Homo sapiens: one gene and its partners. The protein of the gene in region 2 interacts with the protein of the main gene of each other region in a pairwise test. Each region holds a gene or a part of one and is shown on either strand. Other genes may lie near its edges. The genes, in order: SYS1, MCFD2 and SLC35A1.

Evidence for each region.
Region 1: the proteins of MCFD2 (region 2) and SYS1 interact in binary tests that used the Homo sapiens proteins (3 or more experiments, as listed by UniProt).
Region 3: the proteins of MCFD2 (region 2) and SLC35A1 interact in binary tests that used the Homo sapiens proteins (3 or more experiments, as listed by UniProt).

What each region holds. Positions count from the first base shown.
Region 1 is NC_000020.11:45,366,029-45,370,664, reverse strand, and holds the end of SYS1 (protein SYS1 homolog), read right to left. Parts: intron 3,791-4,636; coding exon 3,550-3,790; 3' UTR 1,456-3,549; downstream 1-1,455. UniProt on the Homo sapiens protein: Involved in protein trafficking. May serve as a receptor for ARFRP1.
Region 2 is NC_000002.12:46,912,563-46,920,143, reverse strand, and holds the start of MCFD2 (multiple coagulation factor deficiency protein 2 isoform A precursor), read left to right. Parts: upstream 1-4,337; 5' UTR 4,338-4,421; intron 4,422-7,581. UniProt on the Homo sapiens protein: The MCFD2-LMAN1 complex forms a specific cargo receptor for the ER-to-Golgi transport of selected proteins. Plays a role in the secretion of coagulation factors.
Region 3 is NC_000006.12:87,496,428-87,504,509, reverse strand, and holds part of SLC35A1 (CMP-sialic acid transporter), read right to left. Parts: intron 4,003-8,082; coding exon 3,843-4,002; intron 3,353-3,842; coding exon 3,200-3,352; intron 1-3,199. UniProt on the Homo sapiens protein: Transports CMP-sialic acid from the cytosol into the Golgi apparatus, functioning as an antiporter that exchanges CMP-sialic acid for CMP. Binds both CMP-sialic acid and free CMP, but has higher affinity for free CMP.

The DNA of each region.
Region 1 (4,636 bases), on a different chromosome or scaffold from region 2:
AGGGGATTCCTGTCCAGGGGAGACTGTTTGAGCTGTGTACCCTCCAGGATGCTGGGAGTCCTGGAGCTTCCCATTGTACCCCCTGATGTCTGCTGGCTGCCATCGTGGCTCTCATTTGGCACTGATATGGACAGGGCTGCCTAGAGCGAGGGGTTAGAAGTACCCTCTGAGCCAGACATCCCTTTTTCCTTTCCTGTCCTCCTTTAAGGGTTATAAACTATTCTGACCATCAGCTATGTAGGAGTCTCCACTTTTCTCTCTGAATGGCCAGAGTTCAGGTGGTGGGTGGGAAAAAGGGAGGTCAACTTCAGACACCTGGAGAGTTAAGAGATATGCCAACTCAGTAGTGGGCTAGTACTCTCTTATCTAGGTACCTTCCTTTATCCTTTGGAAATAGATTTCCCACATTCCTAAGATCATCTGAAAATCTCTGGCCAATGCTGGGCACAGTGGCTCATGCCTGTAATCCCAGCACTTTGGGAGGCTGAGGCGGGTGGATCACTTGAGAGGCCAAGAGTTCGAGACCAGCCTGGCCAACATGATGAAACCCCGTCTCTATGAAAAATACAAAAATTAGCCAAGCATGATGGTGCCAACCTGTAATTCCAGCTACTTGGGAGGCTGAAGTATGAGCATTGCTTGAACCCAGGAAGCAGAGGTTGCAGTAAGCTGAGATTGGGCCACTGCATTCCAGCCTGGGTAATGAAGTCGGAGTGAAACTCTGTTTCAAAAAAAAAAAAGGCCAGTTGGGCTTGGTGGCTCACACCTGTAAAATCCCAGCACTTTGGGAGGCCGAGGCAGGTGGATCTCTTGAGCCCAGGAGTTCGAGACCAGCCTGGGCAAAGTGGCAAAGCCCTGTCTCTAAAAAAATAAAAATAAAAATAAAAATACAAAAATTAGCTGGGCGTGGTGGCATGTGCCTATAGTCCCAGCTACTTGGGGGGCTGCGGCAGGAGGATCATTGAGCCTGGGAGGTTGAGGCTATGATGAGCCAAGATCACACCAGTGCACTCCAGCCTGGGTGACAGAGTAAGACCCTGCCTCAAAAAAAAAAAAAAAAAAAAAAAAGGAAATCTCTGGCTATATTTAATGTACTGCATATCAGCTTTTCTTAGAAAGCTAGTAATGTTTATAAAGTACTATTCATCCTCGGTATTTAAAAAAATTGACAGGACAAGAAGATATGATTATAAGGTGATAAACTATTTAACCAGACTGTTTAGCCAGTCAGAACTTATACATCCCTAACTACTGACCTCTTCAAAATGAGCTTATTAATATCACTATTAGAGCCCAAATCCTGGCTCTGCCAGCTCCTAAAAAGTCACCTTGGGTAAGTTCCTTACAGCTCCCTCATCTGTAAGATACAGATGACGTTACTTCTTACTTCAGAGGGTTCTTGTGAAGATTTTGAAAAGAGACATAAAGCACTCAGCCCACACTGCTGGACACCTCTTAAGCACTCAATAGATGTTATTTATTATTAAAATGACAAACATGTCACTGCCATTGCCCTGCCCTCTCTGGAACTCAACTCTAAAAACTGCTTTTATTGTTACTTTAGAAATCATAAAAATCTCATTAAGGTCACATATTTTTGATCCCCAACTACCATGCAGCTCAGTCTCCATATTACTGAAAAAAAGTTTGGATCACGTGACTTTTGGCCATTTCTAAAAATCAAATTAACACTCAGGGGACAGAGATTTGTCATCACAGAAGATATGCAGAAAAATAGGCACAAGACCTTGAAGTGAATCCCAAAGAGGCGCTCCAACCACAGATGGAGTAACCACCACCACGGCTGGTCAAGGGTGACAGCAGCCACATGATGGGTGTTCTTTCAAAGTTAGTCACATGCCTGCAGTTTGTGTTGTCTAGAGGGAAATTGATTAACCCAGGGAAGGTCATCCCAGCTGGTCTTACCTCCTAGACCCTGCAGCCAGGATTACTGTGCCTCATTAACAAACTGCTTCCTTCCAACTTGGCCAAGGTACCATGAGTTACTGAGGTGCCTCACCCTAGAACCTTCCCAGTCTCTTCCCAGGCATATTTATTCCTAAATCTTCATCCTGTCAGCATCAACTCCCTACTCTGTAGGGCTGAGAGTCAGGAGGTCAGATGAGCTTCTCAGAGAGATAGCAAAACTCATTTGTGTTACCATAAACTCATTTGTGTTACTGACAGCTGAAAACTGACAGCTCTCTTGGGAAAGCTCTGAAGAAACCAAAGAGGAACAGTGAAGGTTTCAATGCGGAAGTGGGTCTAGACTGTGTGCCGCTCCATTGAACATGTTCAGAAATCACTAGCAAGTAGGAACGGAAACCCAAGAATTATGTGGTTCACCTGAGGCATAGCAGGGGACGCTGCAAGTGAAGGAGACAGGATGTAAGAGTTCCCTGCACTGAGTATTTTAACCAAATGGAGGAATGACTCTGGGGTCCAGGAAAGGGAGAAGGTGGCCTAATAATTCTTTAAAGTTCCCTTGCCTGGCTGCGCTGATCTCTCTCAATCTCAACCGTGGCATTACAAAGTAAGTGCAGGCAGAACCATGGAAAATACTGTATTTGTATACACAGGAAGGATAGCTGCAAGCCCCTCACAGAGGAAACTCCACCCCAAAGAAAAATCTTAGCAGCAAATTCCTATCTCCCTCAGCACTATCAGCACAGCCCAGGCCAGAAGGTTGGGCTTCTTGTCTCTGGGAACCCATCATACCCTTCCCGCCAAAGAATTCTAAATAAGGCAGGAAAAAAAATTGGAGTCCAGTGGGAGCTGGGTGCCTGGTCATTCCTAGAAGACAGGCAGTGTCTTTATGATGGTTAGACTTTGAGCAACGCTGGGATTCTTCTCTGGGTCCTATGGCCTGCTATGTTGAGAGCTGGCAGCAGGATGGGGACCTGGTAGAAGGAACTGGAAGAAAGTCATAGGTTCTTGGGTGCACATGAACGTGTGTATAACAGGGCACAGGTTGTGCATTTTCCTTGTGCTTGATGCCTCCATCTGCCATCCTCTCCCTGACAGCAGCCTAATACTTCACACCTACATTTCTTTCTGTGGCTCTGGATCCGGAAACCAAGCGTTTCTCCAACAGAACTGCTGTGATTCGGCAACACTGCAAAGGTAACTGCTGTGATTCGGCAACACTGCAAAGGTAACAGCTGTCCCAGGGGGGTAAGACAGATGACTAAAGAAGTGGTTTGCTCCAATCAGATATCCTTGATTTTTTTTCTCTCTTAAAACAACAGGCTGGTGACAGGTATTGTGGCTCAAGAGTGGCATGGTTCCAATTCTGTTATTACCCTCAAAGAGGTCCCCTTCCTGACCTCTCAGATACCAAGGCTTCAACAGACAGAGGTCATTCTTGCAGCTGTCATGCTGACTGCTACCTGCCTTCTTTGACAGGCCCTCACTATCTCTCCCAAACCAACAGAGACTTCACATTTCCAGGGTTCCTCTCAGATCTGGGCTGGACCTCATCTGGAGGGTCTGAGCAGCCCAAGGTGTTAAGGGGCCCAAGTGTCAGCAGGATGTCCAAAGGGCCTGATTCTAGACATTGGATTTAGGGGCTGAGTTGAGGGGTATCTCCTTGAGCTCCGTCCGCATGCACAGGTACTCCCCGATGACAGCCATGAGTGCAATGCACACGGCTTGGACCAGCCACCAGGTCAGCGCCGAGGGGAAACGGGAGCTGTAGAACCAGCAGCCCAGGAGGTGAAAGAAATGGACAGTGACAGTGAAATCCAGACACTGCTTTCCTCGCCGGATGAAGTACAGCAAGCCCAGGGCACTGTGGGGAGAGGACAGCAGTGAGTTGTCACTGGGTTGTCCTGGCCTTAGGTTATTTGGGAGGGTAGGGACAATTAGGACGGCAGCATAGTGGTCAGAAGTGACGAGATAAGTGTGAAGCAAGGGTTATGATACCAGACGCCTAGAAGAACCTGGCGGGTAATGTCAAGAGTGAAGCTGACTGAGTATGAGCTTGATGATCGATGGCAATTGTCACTAGGGGATCCTAGGAATTGGTGGGGATCATGACACCCTGAAGCATACATGTTCTAGCTAAAGGGGGGCAGTAGCTACTTGCATCTAGGCAAATCTTATCATGCTAGAAGGTTGGCCTGGAATCAGTCAGTCATTCCATTATTCAAGAGAAGCCAGAAATCTGGATTTTTATATAAAATAGCCTGATTTTCAACTAAGTGAAAAAAATGTTTTAAACACCATGTGTGGGCTGACATCTATGTAAGCCAAATAGAACCTATCTGGAAGACAAATTTAGGTCAAAGTCAGCCCACCAGTTTTCAACCTCCGGTGTAAGGACAAGAATAATAATAACATGCAAGGCACTGTTCTAAGTCCTTCTTGTGAATTAACTTATTTAATCCTTACAACTATGAGGTAGGTAATATTACTAGCCCCATTTTACTGATGAGGCAACTGTGGTAGATTAACTTGTCCAAAGTCACTAGACTAGTAGTAAAGCTGAGGTTCAATGCCAAATGAGTCTGCCTCCAGAGCCTGACACCTTGACCACTATGCTAAACTGCCTCTTAAGAGACAGGCAATGATTACGTGTGACCTTAGACATCACTGAGTCCAAACCCTCATGGACAAAAGAGGAGCCTGAGGCCCA
Region 2 (7,581 bases):
ATCAACAGTCAGACTTTTCATTAGGAGTGATGTGTGCTTTGATAAAGTCAGGGACGGAAGAAACAAGGTCATCAAATGCAGATGGCCATCATATTCACCACCCCAGTTTATAGTATATCTGAATTCAGAACAACACAACACATGCCAAAATTCCAAGCTTTTAACACCACAGTTCACCCTTATCAGAAATATGAATAAGGGAGAGAGAAATACAAAGCCCCATCCCAGCTGACAGGGGAGCCTAGAACATGCAACCCATTGAGGTCACCCTCATCCAATGCAAGGGTGATAGAGCAAGACCTTTTCTCTAAACAAAAGAAACTGCAGTTTCTTTGGTGGCAGTGTATTAAGTTCTCAGTTGGAGAATCTGGAAGCCGCACCCTTGTTTTTTCCTCTACTTGTGCAGAACGCACACCTTTTGCATCCTACTCCCTGTTAGAAGGAATTCCAGGGTTCAGAGATTACCACAGGGCCCAACAGCAAGAGACTGTTGTTAACCAGGCTTGAGATTTTAGGGACACAGGATTACCTCAATCATTTGTTAGACTTCTGATCAATTTCATGTATAGTAATCACAAATAACTTACCTAAAGTCTTATTTATTTATTTAGAGACAGAGTTTAGCTCTTGCTGCCCAGGCTGAAGAGCAATGGTGCGATCTCAGCTCACCTCAACCTCTGCTGCCCGGGTTCAAGCAATTCTCCTGCTTCAGCCTCCCGAGTATCTGGGATTACAAGCATGCGTCACCACACCCAGCTAATTTTGTATTTTTAGTAGAGACAGGGTTTCACCATGCTGGCCAGGCTGGTCTCGAACTCCTGACCTGAGGTGATTTGCCGCCTCGGCCTCCCAAAGTGCTGGGATTACAGGCGTGAGCCACCACACCCAGCCTATCTAGAGTCTTTAAATTGTTTTTATTCAATATTTTTCTATTTATTTTTCCAAATAAGTAATATGTAGTTTACAACATCAAAGCAATACTAAAAGGTGTAAATTGAAATCTTATTTTCACCCCTATTCTCATCCACTCTGGAATCCCCTACATAGGTAAAACATTGTCTTGAGACAATTCAAAACAGCTGAGGAAAGAGATGCCACCTAGAGGCCATTCTGGTATCTTGGGATGGCCGTCCTATCTCCTGATAAAGCCACCTCTCTGTCTCTACTTGTACTAGTTTCAACCTGAGTACACAAAGTAAATGGGGTATTTCAGCAAGGTTCCAAGTTATGAGACTCCTGGTTGCAGGTAAAGAGATCCTCTCTTACCTAGTCGTTACTTTCTTTAATCTCTGCTTTCAAATCAGTTATTTCCAACGTAGAGTTGCCCTTCTCTTGAAGGAGTCTGCTGAAAGCTACTAAAAAAGGCAACACTCACTAATGTTCCATATTGCTCGTGAGATTTCTCCAAAAATATAGCATTGGTTGGCATGTGGCCTATATCCAAGGTCCAGCAAGTGACAGTTTCACTACGGCTTATAAGGGTCACCAACTTTCCAGTTTGACATACAGTCTTTTAACACTGGCTACCTTAACCTCCAGTTAGCCAATTCCATATTTTAGTGTCTTGTTTTTAGCATCCTGCTTCTGGTACCAAATTATTTGCCTGTTAGGAATGGGTTCAGCTACAAGTTACAGAACACCCACCTATAAAATGGCTTAATCAAAGGTGGCTTCTCACTTATGGACTACAGTAGGGCAAGAATGGAAGCAGGACGGTCAGTTAGGAAGCTCTCTCTCAAGTAGTCCAGCAGCATCATCTACTACTGGACTAGATGGTTTAGTGGAGGTGGAAAGAAGTCAAAGACTCAGGATACATTTTGATAGCATCAACAGGCTTTGCTGAAGGATTTAAAGGTAAAGGGATGAGATAAATCAAAAACAGCTCGTAGAATTTTAGCTTGAACAACAGAATGAGTACCAGTGACATTTACTAAAATGCACAAGACTGAGAGAGGTGCAGGTTTGGGGGTGAAAATCAAGATTTTGGGGGGACACATTAAGTTTGAGATGCCAGTCTGACATTCATATGGAGACATCAAGTAGGCAGTTATTTACAGGAGCCAGGAATTACACAGAGAGGTCATTGTCAGAGAGACATATTTTGGAGTCATCTATTTATAAATGGTATCTAAAGCACAGGACTAGGTAAACTCACATAGGGAGGGTGGATAGAGAAGGTGACTCAGAACAGAACCCTGGACACTTTGATAATTATAGATTGAGAAGCCAATTAAGAAGCCCAAGAAAGGATAATGAGTGAGGTAGCAGAAGGACCCAGAGTGTGTGGTGTCAGAAAACAAGAGAAGAAAGTGTTTCTAAGTGAGAGTGGTTGGCTTTGATAAAACAGTGTTGAGAGGGCAAGTAAAATAAAAACAAGAGATCAAAGAGACCACTAGATTTGCATGGAGATTGCAGTTTCAGTGGTATGGTGGGGGAGAAAATACAGCAAGTTTATATGTTGATGGGAATTATCTGGTAGAGAGGGAGTGACTGTAGATTCAAGAGAGACATAACACAGGATAACATCCATAGGAAAAAAATGAAAGCACTGGCTAGAATGAGGACACTTTATCCATCTACCAGACACCAGCTTCTTGACACTTCATTTGTCTTATTTGTATCTCTAGTAGCTCCTAGTAGAGCGCCTAGTACATAGAAGATATTCAAGAAATGTTATTGAATGAATAAATGAACAAAGGGAGGGGTGGATGAATGGATGAAGAGATGGATGAATGGCAGATGCAGGGTAGAAGGAGGAACTAGATCAAACTAATCCAAAGTTCAGAGTAAGGAAAGAAGAATGGGTCTTGAATTAATAGGGTTTCCTCAAAACTTAGGGATTCTTTGTCCCGGCGCGGTGGCTCACCCCTGTAATCCCAGCACTTTGGGAGGCGGAGGTGGTGGGAGGATTGCTTGAACCCAGGAGTTCGAGACGAGCTGGGCACCATGGAGACTCTTTTCTTTAAAAAAAGAAAAAAAAATTAGGGATTATGGGATTTTTCTCTGGGATGGGGTGGCAGATTTCAATCTCAGATGAAGGTGGGAAAAGGAATGAGACCGTCAATGGCAGTGGCGTTAGGCAACTTTCAAGGCATCTAACTACTTAGCCACTTTCTTTGTCTTTCCTGTCCGGACCCAGGCTCATTTGAAAAACGATTATGTACCTTTATGGACAGAAATGGGAGAAGGGCTTTAAAAAAAACGACCGTCCTGCCGGGAGTGGTGGCTCACGCCTGTAATCCCAGCACTTTGGGAGGCTGAGGCGGGAGGATCAAGAGGTCAGCAGTTAGAGACCAGCCTGGCCAACACGGTGAAACCCCGTCTCTACTAAAAATACAAAAATTAGCCGGGCAAGGTGGCACGCGCCTGTAATCCCAGCTACTCGGGAGGCTGAGGTAGGAGAAGAGCTTGAACCTGGGAGGCGGAGGTTGCAGTGAGCCGAGATCCCACCACTGCACTCCAGCCTGGGACAGAGCGAGACTCCGTCTCAAAACAAAACAAAACAAAACAAAAAAACAAAACGACCGTCCTACACTCATTTATCCATCAGGTCAATGGATACTTACTGAATGTTAATCTTGTATAGGAGCACAGGTGTAAGGGCAGGATTATACAGGGATGAATTCGATACAGGGATGATGTATTCGTTTCCCTATTTGTTCATGAGTCTGTTTTTAAGTAATCTGTCCTCTCTTGAATGTCAAAAGCTGCTGATTTCACGAACGGTACATGGAAGATGGTATTTGAACTGGGTCGCATAGTCTTGCTGGGACTCCCGTGGAAGCGAACGGGGACAGCGGCTGCCGCAGCTTGTGCAGTGGAGCTGGCAGACGCTGGAAGCAGGCCAATCTTGAAACGTAGGGTCCAAGGCCGGCTCCAGCGTGTTGTGGTCGTTTCATCAAGAAGGAATTAGCATTCCTATTATCTTTCTTCCCAACTTGCAGCAGGACGAACCAAGAGACCTGAACCAAGAGCCCTGTATAGGAGGGGGTGAGCGGAGTTGGGAGCCAGCTTTGGGGTCCGCCCCATCCGGATCCGCCATCCTACGTCGCCCGTGGAACTACGTTCCTGAGGGCTTCCGGCGTTGCCTAGCAACTGCCGGGCCCCTAGGGCGTCCAGCGGCCCAACTGGAGTGGAGCCGAGTGTCGCCCTTGGGAAAGCAGGTAGAAGAACTGCGTCAGTCCCGCCAGTGCTGGGCCCGGGCCGATTACACGTGGACTCACGCGAGCCGTCCTCACAGCCCGCCGCCGCCAGCGGGAGGGGCCCGGCGGCGCCAATGGGCGGGCGGCAGGGAGCGCGCGTGCGCAGGGCAGGTCGGGGGGGGGGGGGGGGCGGGGCGAAGCCGAGGAAGAGCGTTTTGGGGACGGGGGCTGGTGAGGCTCACGTTGGAGGGCTTCGCGTCTGCTTCGGAGACCGTAAGGGTGAGTGAACTAGCGCACTCTCCGCAGCGGGCGGGATCCCGGCGCCTCTCCTGTGGGCTGGAGGCTTGGGCTCAAGATGAGAGGCAGGAGTAGTCTGGGGGCGCGGGCTGGGCCCCCAGGCCGTCTCGGGACGCTTAACCGGCTAGGAGCACGGCCTGTCTCCCGGGGCGGAAGCCTGTGCCCCACCGGGGGCTCTGGAGCCAGACGGGGCCGACTGGGCAGATCTCCGCCCCCTTCCCTGGTCCCTAGGGGCCCGAGGATCGGCCTGTGGGACCAGCTGTGTCGGGTGGACACTGCTCCTGGCCCGGCCCAAAAGCAGCGGGCCGGAAGCCTTACTCTCCCTCTGCTCCTTGTTCCCTCTCTCGGGGAGACCACAGGTCCTGTCGGGCCCGGCGGGGGAAGCTGATCTCCTGTTGTATTCCCTCTCTGGGCATGGCCATCCACCCGGGTGCCCAAGCCAGAATTGGGCATCATTCTCACTTGCTTCACTCCTTTACCCACCCACATCGAATCCCTTGCAAAGTTGTCTTGGATACGTTCATTCTCCAGTCCCATCCCCCTGCCCTACCTAGTTCAGGCCACCTTTTCTTCTCTGGACTACCTCGGTGTCTTCCTGATGATCCCTGCATCTCTTCTTCATCCTCTGTAGTTTGTTCTATACAGAGAGGCTACAGCCATGGTCTTAAAACAGAAATCTGATCATGTGACCAGAAGCGTCCCCCCATTCCCTTATCACCCTTTGGTGGATTCTCATTGCTCTTCCAAGCTCTTGAACGGGGCTTGCAAAGCCCTTCATGACCTGTCTTCCTTTAACTTTAGATTCATTTGTCTCGACTGTACTGTGTCTTCAACCATACTGAATCTTTTTTGGTTCTTAGATCAGAACAAGTTCCTTCTGGGCTTACATGTTCCTTCAGTATGTTCGCTATGTCTGAGGCACTGTCCTTTGGTTGAAATAATCCTTCTTATCCTTTATGTGTTATTTCAGGTGTCAGTTGGGGATTTCGTGGTACCCCATGGGTGTCTGCCTGCCGGTCTCTCTTTTCTACCAGGTTGTAATCTGTGTGAGAGGAGTTTGTCGAGGTCATAGTACTATCTTCAGTACCTTGTGCTGTTAGTACGGTCATTAAATGTATAAATGCAGCATGGGTGCTCCTTGGGCTCCCTAGATGAACAAATAGATCAAGTTATTAATATTAAATGCCTGCTTTTTCAGAACCAATTCTCAACCCTCAGTCCGTGTAGAGGTTTCTTTAGCTTAGGAAGTTGGTTATTTTCTTGCCTTCATTCCAGGACCATGACAGGGGTAAGTGACAAAGTACTGGTCAGTTTTTCTTTGGCATTGGCTGTGGGTACAGGATGTCTGGATGTTGGTGAGTTTGGCTGCTTTGGGTTTGAATTCTTAACCAAGGGCCCCTTGAGGGAGAAGCTGCTACTAGCTGCTGGCAGGAAGGCTGGCCCCAAACTTAGTGCTGATAGGACTGATGACACACCAGGAAGAAAGGGTTGGGCCAGGTCAAACCACTGGAAGCCTCCAAAGGAAGTTCCAGCTTAGGCTAGATCCGCTGTGGGATAGGGAACAATACACCTAGGTGCCAAGACTCACTTCCCTGATTCAGCGATGAGCCAGGTCAGCTCAGCAGAGATCAGTAAGGTAAATGAGAGCCAGAGGAGAGAGGGTCCTGACTCTCAGAGAGGGAGGAAAAGAGAAAAATGGAAAAGGAGAACAACCTGTGATCGTATGTTCAGGTCAAATGAGTGTGAGAGGCTACAGACTGAGGTCGGATGAGAGAGCAATTGGTCTTGGCTGGAAGAATCCTGAGGTGACATTTGAACCTGTCCTGGAAGGAAGTTGGAGATGGACAGATGGAACCAGTAGGAGCGGAGGCTGTGGTACAGGAAGAGGCTGGCAGAGCAGGAGGGGAGCACTGTGACAGCCAAGGCACTGGGAGGCGCACTGCTCCTGATGGTCCAGCACTGCCCTCCCAGGACTGAGGCTGCGCCTTGTGAGGGCTGTCTCAAGGTATGGGTTGTGCCCTGAAGTCCCTTTGCAGAAATTTCTCCTCCGTTGGGTTTTTCTTCAGCCTGGCCTTTATAATTTCCTAAAGAAGGCCAGTGAGCTGGGGCTTATCTTCAGGCTGTTAGCCCATGGCCTTGAGCTAAGTAGTTAGAGCATGGATGATGCAACCTGTTATTTGGGTAGAGGGAGTTGCTTATGCTTTCTCTTGACTGTCAGCAGTTTAATTTGTTAGGTGGCAGTTAGATTCCCTGTTTTCTATCTTTCCCTCCCTCGCCTGCCTTCTTTCCTTTCTTCCTCTCTCTCTCTCTCTTTTTCTAATTAGAGAGGGAGTCTCACCATGTTGTCCAGGCTGGTCTTGAACTCCTGGGCTCAAGTGATTCACTTGCCTCAGCCTCTCAAAGTATTGAGATTACAGGCATAAGCCACCATGCCCAGCCCGATTCCCTGTTTTCAGTGTACCACTTGGAGGAATTTTTTTTCTTTATGTTTATCGATTTGGCTTTTGTTGCATTCCAATGATTAGAAACCTGCAACAGCAAACCAAAATGAGACAAGTTCAAAATCAGTGATTCTTGGCCTTTATCCCACCTCCCTTAAAGAAGGGATATTTTGGACTCATAGTTACTACATGATTAATCACTTGGTTGCTTTTTGGTGTTATCTAAATAGAATTTCCCCCACCCCCAACACACACACACCAAATTGATATACTAAGCATCCAATCACATAGTTGGAGGAAATGGTGCCATGAGTTCCATGATAGATATCTCCAAAAGAAAAGTTTCATCTTCAGTTACAGTGACATTAAAAATTGGCAGCATATCTGCAAAGGTGGTAATCCCCCCAGCTCCCCAAGGACCATGGCACACAGGCTAAGAACCAGCAGCTTCTGTTCCAGGCACTGTGCCTGATACTGGGAATGTGGATTCAGTCCAAGTCCTCTTAAAGCCCATCCAGCAAGGGGCACTGACAAGTAATCAGGCAGTTTTTCAAGAATTCATTCACACACAAGAAAACAAAAGAAAAAAAAGAATTAATTTGCAGCTGTCATCAGCTGTGGACGGGAGCCTTCTGAAGGGAAGCACTTGGGAGCCTGCAGGACGAATACCTACACCAGACTTGGAATTGAAAAGACCTCAC
Region 3 (8,082 bases), on a different chromosome or scaffold from region 2:
ACTGAAGAAGGAGGTTCTGGTGAAAAGTAAAAAAAAGAATACATAAGGAAATCAACATATCTAAATAAGGGCATCTTCACTGAATTCTGATTTTACAAGAACAAAGCCGAAGTACAGATCACCAAGAGGAATCTAACCAGGAATTTAAGAATAGTATCAAGAAATCGAAAACTCAGAATAAGTGGAGGCTTGCAAAAAATCCTGTAAGGCATTAAAGAAAGCTTTTTTTTTTTTTTTTCTTTTTGAGACAGGATCTTGTGGTATAATCATGGTTCACTACAGCCTCAACCTCCTCGGCTCAAGTGATCCTCCCACCTCAGCTTCCCAAGTAGCTGGGACTACAGGCATGCATCACCACATCTAGCTAAGTTTTAAATTTTTTTGTAGAGACATGGTCTCACTATATTACCCAGGCTGGTCTTGAACTCCTGGGCTCAAGCAATTCTCCCCGCCTAGACTACCTAGCTAAATAAATTTAAAAGACTATCAAGAAAAGTAGGTGAGTTAGTGTATATAAAGCATTTAGATAATGCTAGTATTTAGTGCATTATAAATGATTGCAGCTGTTATTGTTACATTGATTACCAGCAAAATGTTAGAACAGATTTAGAGATGACTTGTACTTAAAAAGCTTAATGGTCATCAGTGGAAAATAGTGTGACTTCACCAAGTGTGAAACATACCAGATTTCCTTACTGAAAGGACTCCTAATGTTAAGTGATGAGGGGAATTCCATAGAGATAATGTTTGGCAAAAAATGTGACAGACTTGCATATTATTGTTATTATTATTATTATTGAAACAGAGTCTCGCACTATCACTCGAGCTGGTGTGCAGTGGCGCGATCTCGGCTCACTGCAACCTCTGCCTCCCAGGTTCAAGCGATTCTCCTGCCTCAGCCTCCTGAGTAGCTAGGATTACAGGCGCCTGCCACCACGCCCAGCTAAGTTTTTGTATTTTTAGTACAGACGGGGTTTCACCATGTTAGCCAGGCTGGTCTCGAACTCCTCACCTGGTGATCTGCGACCAGCCACATAATATTTTTATAGACAACACAGAACTGTAGTGAGGATAAAGGTACAATCCGTAAGTGTGTGAATGCTCATACAGAAAAATGGTAGTTAATTGAACAAAATCAAGCTAGGCCATCAACCAATACCAACTTGCCAGGCATATAGATAAGCCACGTTAGAAACAGATCCTCCAGCCGTAGTCAAGTCTTCAGTTGACTGCAGCCCTAGCCAGTATCTTGACTGCAACCTCAAGCCAGAACCAGCTAGCTAAGGCACCCTCAAATTCCTGACCCATAAAAACTATGAGAGATGATATGTTCAGTAAGCAAGAAAAAGATCAAGCTAGAGAGAATTCTAAAGGTACAGCCACAGAACTCTGGTCCTGTTCTACCTAAAATTTTCATTAAAGACCCAGAAGGCATATTTTTTTTGACTCTGGAAAGCGTAATACCCAAAGGAGAAGCTAATAATGGGTAAGAACTGGAAATAACTCAAGGGGCTGAGCAATGACCCAAAGCTAACAAGAAGAGCTTAATAAATACAAACTCAACCTGCATTCTGGTTTAGAATAAGCCAGAGTTTGAGTTCTAGTGTCAATGAGAGTCTATTCCAGTCCTGACACTTGGAACCCACTTAACCAGTAGTGGAGGAGTGCATGGCAGTGCAGACAGATTGAGGGAACAGTGGGGTGAGAGGGATACAAGATACATTTGAGACAAACTATTTGGGTGACACAGTTACATGTAGTGGTTTATGATCAATTGTAAAATAGATACTTTGCCTGCCCCCCAGAAATTAACAGTCATGTACCACATAATGACATTTCAGTCCATGATGAACCACATATAAAACAGCGGTCCTGTAAGATAAAACTATATTTGTGCCTTTTCTATGTTTAGGTACGCTAAACTTACCACTGTGTTACAACTCGCTACAGTATTCAGCACAGTAACATGCTGCAGAAGTTTGTAGCCTAGGAACAATAGGCTATATACTGTACAGCCTAGATGTGTAGTAAGTAGTCTATACCATCTAGATTTGTGTAAGTATACTCCATGATGTTTGCACAACAGTGAAATCACCTAATGATGCATCTCTCAGAACCCTGAACTTACATTCTTTGTTAAGCGATGCATGACTGTATAACAAGTCTCCGGTATTCAGAACAAAGGGGTAATTACCAAACTGTGCCTCGTATTACTTAGACAACATTGGGAGACAGTGGGGTTTTAGGATATATTGAGAAATAATGACAGATGAATGCATCTAGGAGAAAAATATAAGGAAAAGTGTAGGGGCAGAAGGCAGGGATCAGGAAGTCTGTCTAGAAACCATATTATAGAAAGAAACAGTAGGGTTTTAATTGGGGAAGGAGGGGACCTGGAGGGTGGGGATATGATACTGTTCACAAGCACTGTACATCCCAGCCGCCTTCCATTCCTAAGAGAACCATAGTCTGTTTGCTAAAAGTTAGAGTAAATATTCAACTGTAGGAAACTCCTGACCTTCACAAAACTATTCACTGGCATCCCATTTCCTGTTTCTCTTTGGGGAAATAACTGATTGAGGCATACAATGTAAGAAAAAAAATCATGTATGTATCTTAGCGTTAACTCTTTAAAAATCTGTTATGTACCTTCACATTAACTCTTAAAAACTAAAGATAATTATCAATTATCAGTAAGAACACTCCTTCCCTTGTCATCCTGATCACTGACAGTAGGGAGATGTGCCAGAGACTGACAGTTGAGAGAGAAGATGAAAACTAGATGCAGAAAAACCTTGCCCAGTGTTTCTGAGATGTTTGAAAGAGGTCTAGAAGTTCTAAACATATACAGTATGGAAACTGGCACAGTTGTGGTCACAAGTTAGCTATTAACTAATTTAGGACAAGTTCCTTCACCTCTTTGGGGACTGTCATCCATAAAATGGAGGGGATGGAACACATTATTTCTAAGGTATGTTCCATCTGTAACATATTTTATGCATATTCTCCTCTGAGAAACAACCAATAAGTATTATTATCCCTAATAATATGCTAAAGAAAAAAGGCCTATCTATAAGGCAAAAGTTATTTTAAATCAAAGAAATGTAGTCATGCTGCATGCATCAATGTAACTGAACAGTATAAGACTTAAGGAAGTTTTCTATTTATGGGAAGTTATGGTGTGCATTTTGTTTCTTACCACCACTTTTGTAGCTTGGGCTGGTTTCCACTGTACAAGCGTAACTCCAGCACACAGCATAAAAACTGAAACCCACTGTAATTTGCTGAGTGTCCGGTTTAACATTAAAACAGTGCATAAAGCAGTACACGGAATCTTCAACTGGTAGGTCACCTAAAAAAAAGAGAATGAATTAATAAATTCAGTTAATGTTAGTCTCTGATACAAATATATTATTTCTGGTATCATTGATAAAATTATCAATAAAAAATATTTGATAATGGCCGGGCACGGTGGCTCACACCTGTAATCCCAGAACTTTGGGAGGCCGAGGCGGGTGGTGGATCACGAGGTCTGGAGATCAAGACCATCATGGCCAACATAGTGAAACCTCATCTCTACTAAAAATACAAAAAATTAGCTGGGTGTGGTGGCATGTGCCTATAGTCCCAGCTACGCGGGAGGCTGAGGCAGGAGAATCGCTTGAACCTGGGCGGCGGAGATTGCAGTGAGCTGAGATCACGTCACTGCACTCCAGCCTAGACGAAAGAGCGAGACTCCATCTCAAAAAAAAAAAAAAAATTGATAATATGATAAAGAGTTAATAAAAACTCTTTTTACCATAAAAGATTCTGTGCTTTTCATTATCATTAACTCCACTTACCTGGTACACTGCTGCATCCAGATTGCTAAGAGCTAGGAAAGCCATGTTGTTCTGAACAGCATACACTAACGATGGCACACTTAACTTCAACAGTTCCTTGGGGCTCCCCAAGACATTTTCTCTTAAAGATGCTTTGAATCTACCCAGACTACCAGTTTCTCTTTGAAAACAAAAGGGGGAGATGAGAGGGTGGTAAGGAAGAAAATTAAAGAGTATTATTTTAATAAGACTTCTTCAAACACAGGACAAGCATACTATGCTTGCTGTAATTTAGCAAACTAATAATTTCTAACTAGTTTTAGATTAAAAGAAACATACCAATAATGTATCCTCTTTAAAAAATTATAGTTCTGTTTGGGAAAATATGACAACAACTAGATTTACCACTATCTCTAGTCAAAGCTCTGAGAGATTCTGAGTATATTGAATAATGAGATTAGGAAAACTGTTGATATTACCTATAAAAAAATTCATCCCCTGCTACTTTAACTATTTCATCAAGTTCACCCTGATTACTTTTTAATTGATCAGTTTGCATATCCATTTTTATTTTTATATTTATTTTTGAGATGGAGTCTTGTTGTGTCGCCCCGGCTGGAGTGCAGTGGCGCTATCTCAGCTCACTGCAACCTCCACCTCCCGTGTTCAAGTGATTCTCCTGCCTCAGCCTCCTGAGTACCTAGGATTACAGGCACCCACCACCACACCAAGCTAAATTTTTTGTATTTTTAGTATTGTTGGCCAGGCTGGTTTCAAACTCCTGACCTCAAGTGATCTGCCCGCCTCGGCCTCCCAAAGTACTGGGATTACAGGCGTGAGCCACTGCACCTGGCCTATTTTTAAAGTTTTTTTTAAATTACAATAGATTTAATTGCAAATAAAAAGGCTTTGGTAGTTCGTTAAGTGGGTTAGGAAGAGTCAGGTCAGTATTATTTATAAATGAATTTAGTACTTATGAAATATAGTAGATAATAAATCCTTATGTAAGAATATTCTCATACTTTATATCTGTATAATTCTGTAGCAGATCTGAATAATTTACTAACTCCAACAAAAGTAAACTATATCTCTAATGTACATAAAGTTTACTGTTTGACTGCATATTGATTATGCATGCTCTTAACTATTATTTTTGCTATTATTATTTCAGAAGGACGTGGCTAATCTGGCTTGTATTTCCTGTATCATAAATCAGCTCATTGATTTCCTGAAAGTAAAAATAAAGCAATGTTTTATAATAAGCACCAATACCCCAAAAGAAGTGCTTTATAATAATGGTCCTAACTGCAGCTCACGATATCCTTAAGAAAACCATAATACTTTGTTGGTGAAATAGCTCTGTTCCAACTCAAAGTTTGATAATTACAATGAGATTCTGTATTTTTGGTTAATATATTAGAATCAACAGTTGTGAGTTGAATTTTTTCATTTTTAAATGCTGCAAATATAATTGCCCAAGTTCTGAGAGAAAGCAAAAGTCCATTATATTAAATTGACTAACCTGTGCCTATTTATTTGCTGTAGAACATTCTACCTCCAAGAAAATGCTTAATTAATAAGACAGGAACTTTGACCTAAGCCACAGAAACAAAAGACATCCTTCTTAGTTACAGATCTCTTTGTATTACCAAATCCAAACCCACACCACAGTGTTAAGTCTATATGCTGAAAAGGAACGCACACAGCCTAGTGGTGGACTACAAACTCTATTCGAAAAGCAGAAGAATACCAAAAATACCACAGATTTTCCACCAAAAAATCTATGTAGGAGAGTTTTCCAGGCTTCTGAAGATTGGCTCTTTAAACTAATGTTTGCCTTTTTTTTTAACTGCTTAATGCAAATCTAAGATGCCCCATATACTTTCCTTACATCTTTGTTGTTTTGTTTTGTTTTTTTTGAGACGGAGTCTTTCTCTGTCACCCAACCTGGAGTGCAATGGTGCAATCTCGGCTCACTGCAACCTCCATCTCCCAGGTTCATGGATTCTCCTACCTCAGCCTCCTGAGTAGCTGGGACTACATGCACAGGCCACTACGCCCGGCTTATTTTTGTATTTTTGGTAGAGACGGGGTTTCCATGTTGGCAGGCTGGTCTCAAACTCCTGACCTTAAGTGATCCTCCTGCCTCGGCCTCCCAAAGTGCTGGAATTACAGGCATGAGCCACTGCACCTGGCCAACATCTTAAATAGAGTATAAAGAATAATTTTCAAAATGTTTTCTCCTCAATTATAAAACTGATGAAAAAATTAGAGAAAAAGAGATTAAAATGTAAAATAATCACCTTAATAAGGTGATGTATCAGAGAAGATAACTGAACATTATAATTATCTCTAGTATCATGATAGCATAGATATAAATTTTACAGACTGTATGAAGTGCAAGTTTTAGTGCCCTTCTAAAATGCTGACTCATACACTGATGATGTGTCTTTAAGGTGATACCCAGAAGGAACTGCTGAGAGGTGGCTGTTTGTGCCCATGCTTCACACTCCACCTTCTCCCATATTCATTTATCTCCTGGTGTAAGATTCTTCATGCTAAACCCTCAAAAGCTACAATATAATGGCTATTTATCCTTTCCCTAATCCCCAGCTATGGGCAATGCCACTTTACCTCCACCTGTTAAATATATTATAGCCTTGGTGGGTGTGGTGGCTCACACCTGTATCCCAGCTACTCAGGAGGCTAAGGCAAGAGGATCACTTGAGGCCAGGAGTTGGAGACCAGCCCAAGTAACAGAGGAAAATCCCTTCTCTTAAAAAAAAAAAAAAAACTGCCAGGAGTGGTGGCACATGCCTATCATCCCAGCTACGCAGGAGGCTGAGGTGGGAGCATCACTTGAGCCCAGGAGTTTGAAGCTACAGTGAGCTATGATGCCACCACTGCACTCCAGCCTGGGTGAAAGAGTAAGATACCATCTCTTTTAAAAAAAAGAAAAAAATAAGACATTAGAAGCCTTCACTGGTAACAAACGACCTTTTGACTCTCCAAAAAACAGGGCTGATTCTCTTTGTCCTGTCAGAATATGGGCTACTTAAGGATCCAACTGCTACTCCAAATAATCACGATACCTGCACCAATAAAGGCTGCTGTGGTCCCTTTTCTCCCCACTCTTTTCTTTCTTATCACTTCTCCCTCACTTTTCACATAAAAAGAAGGGCTTATGAAACAAATTAGCAGCCAATCTGAGTATTCCTTTCCTTCAGTGGAGCAAAAAGTAAAGTACAGTGCGTCAGGATTAACCTTCAGATCTGTCTCTTTTGGCCATATCCTTTTTGTTGGATGCTTAGGAGCTATTTTTTCACGGTCAGGATGGCCAAGGTATCTTTTTCTGGTTCCTTCTCTAATGTAGACATTAGAGAAACCAAGGTATACCAGAATGTTAATTGCTGGAAAGTGCAAATATCACTGTAGTACCAAAGATTATAGCAATGTTACATAAGATATTTTGAAATAAGTTACAAAAAAAAACAGAGGATGCTAAAAGAACTAGTAAAAGAGAATAACAGAAAAGTATCAGAAAGTAGAGGAGATTTAGGAGGTATTGGAAAGAATATGTGGGAATCTCACCACACAGAAAGTTTTAAAGAAGAGGGTAAATAATTTCAGTATTAATCAGGTTAAATCCTGCTTAAGTTAATGTATTTATTAAGAATACAGCTCTTAATCTTATATTTAGCTTTACTCACTGAAGTTACATAAAAGTAACAAGAGCAATATATCTGCTAGAAAACACTAGTAATCATCGTTTTGTTTTACTATGAAAGAGATAGAAACAAATGATCAGTCCTAAATATACTGTAATATATTGTAAAAAGGTTACTTTTTCTTCCATTTTCCGGAACTTATATTTTCTGTTTTGGTGGGTTTTTCTTTTTTTTTTTTTTTGAGATGGAGTCTAGCCATGTCACCCAGGCTAGAGTGCAGTGGTGTGATCTCGGCTCACTGCAACCTCCACCTCCTGGGTTCAAGTGATTCTCCTGCTTCAGCCTCCCAAGTAAGTGGGAGTACAGGTGCACACCACCACACCTGGCTAATTTTTTGTATTTTTAGTAGAGATGGGGTTTTTCATCATGTTGGCCAGGCTGGTCTTGAACTCCTGACCAAGTGATCCACCCACCTCGGCCTCCCAAAGTGCTGGATTACAGGCGTAAGCCACCACGCCTGGCCCTCAACTTACTTTCTTAGAAATCAAATCACAAGCACCTTAATGAGCACCTCTGTTAAAAACAAATTTATT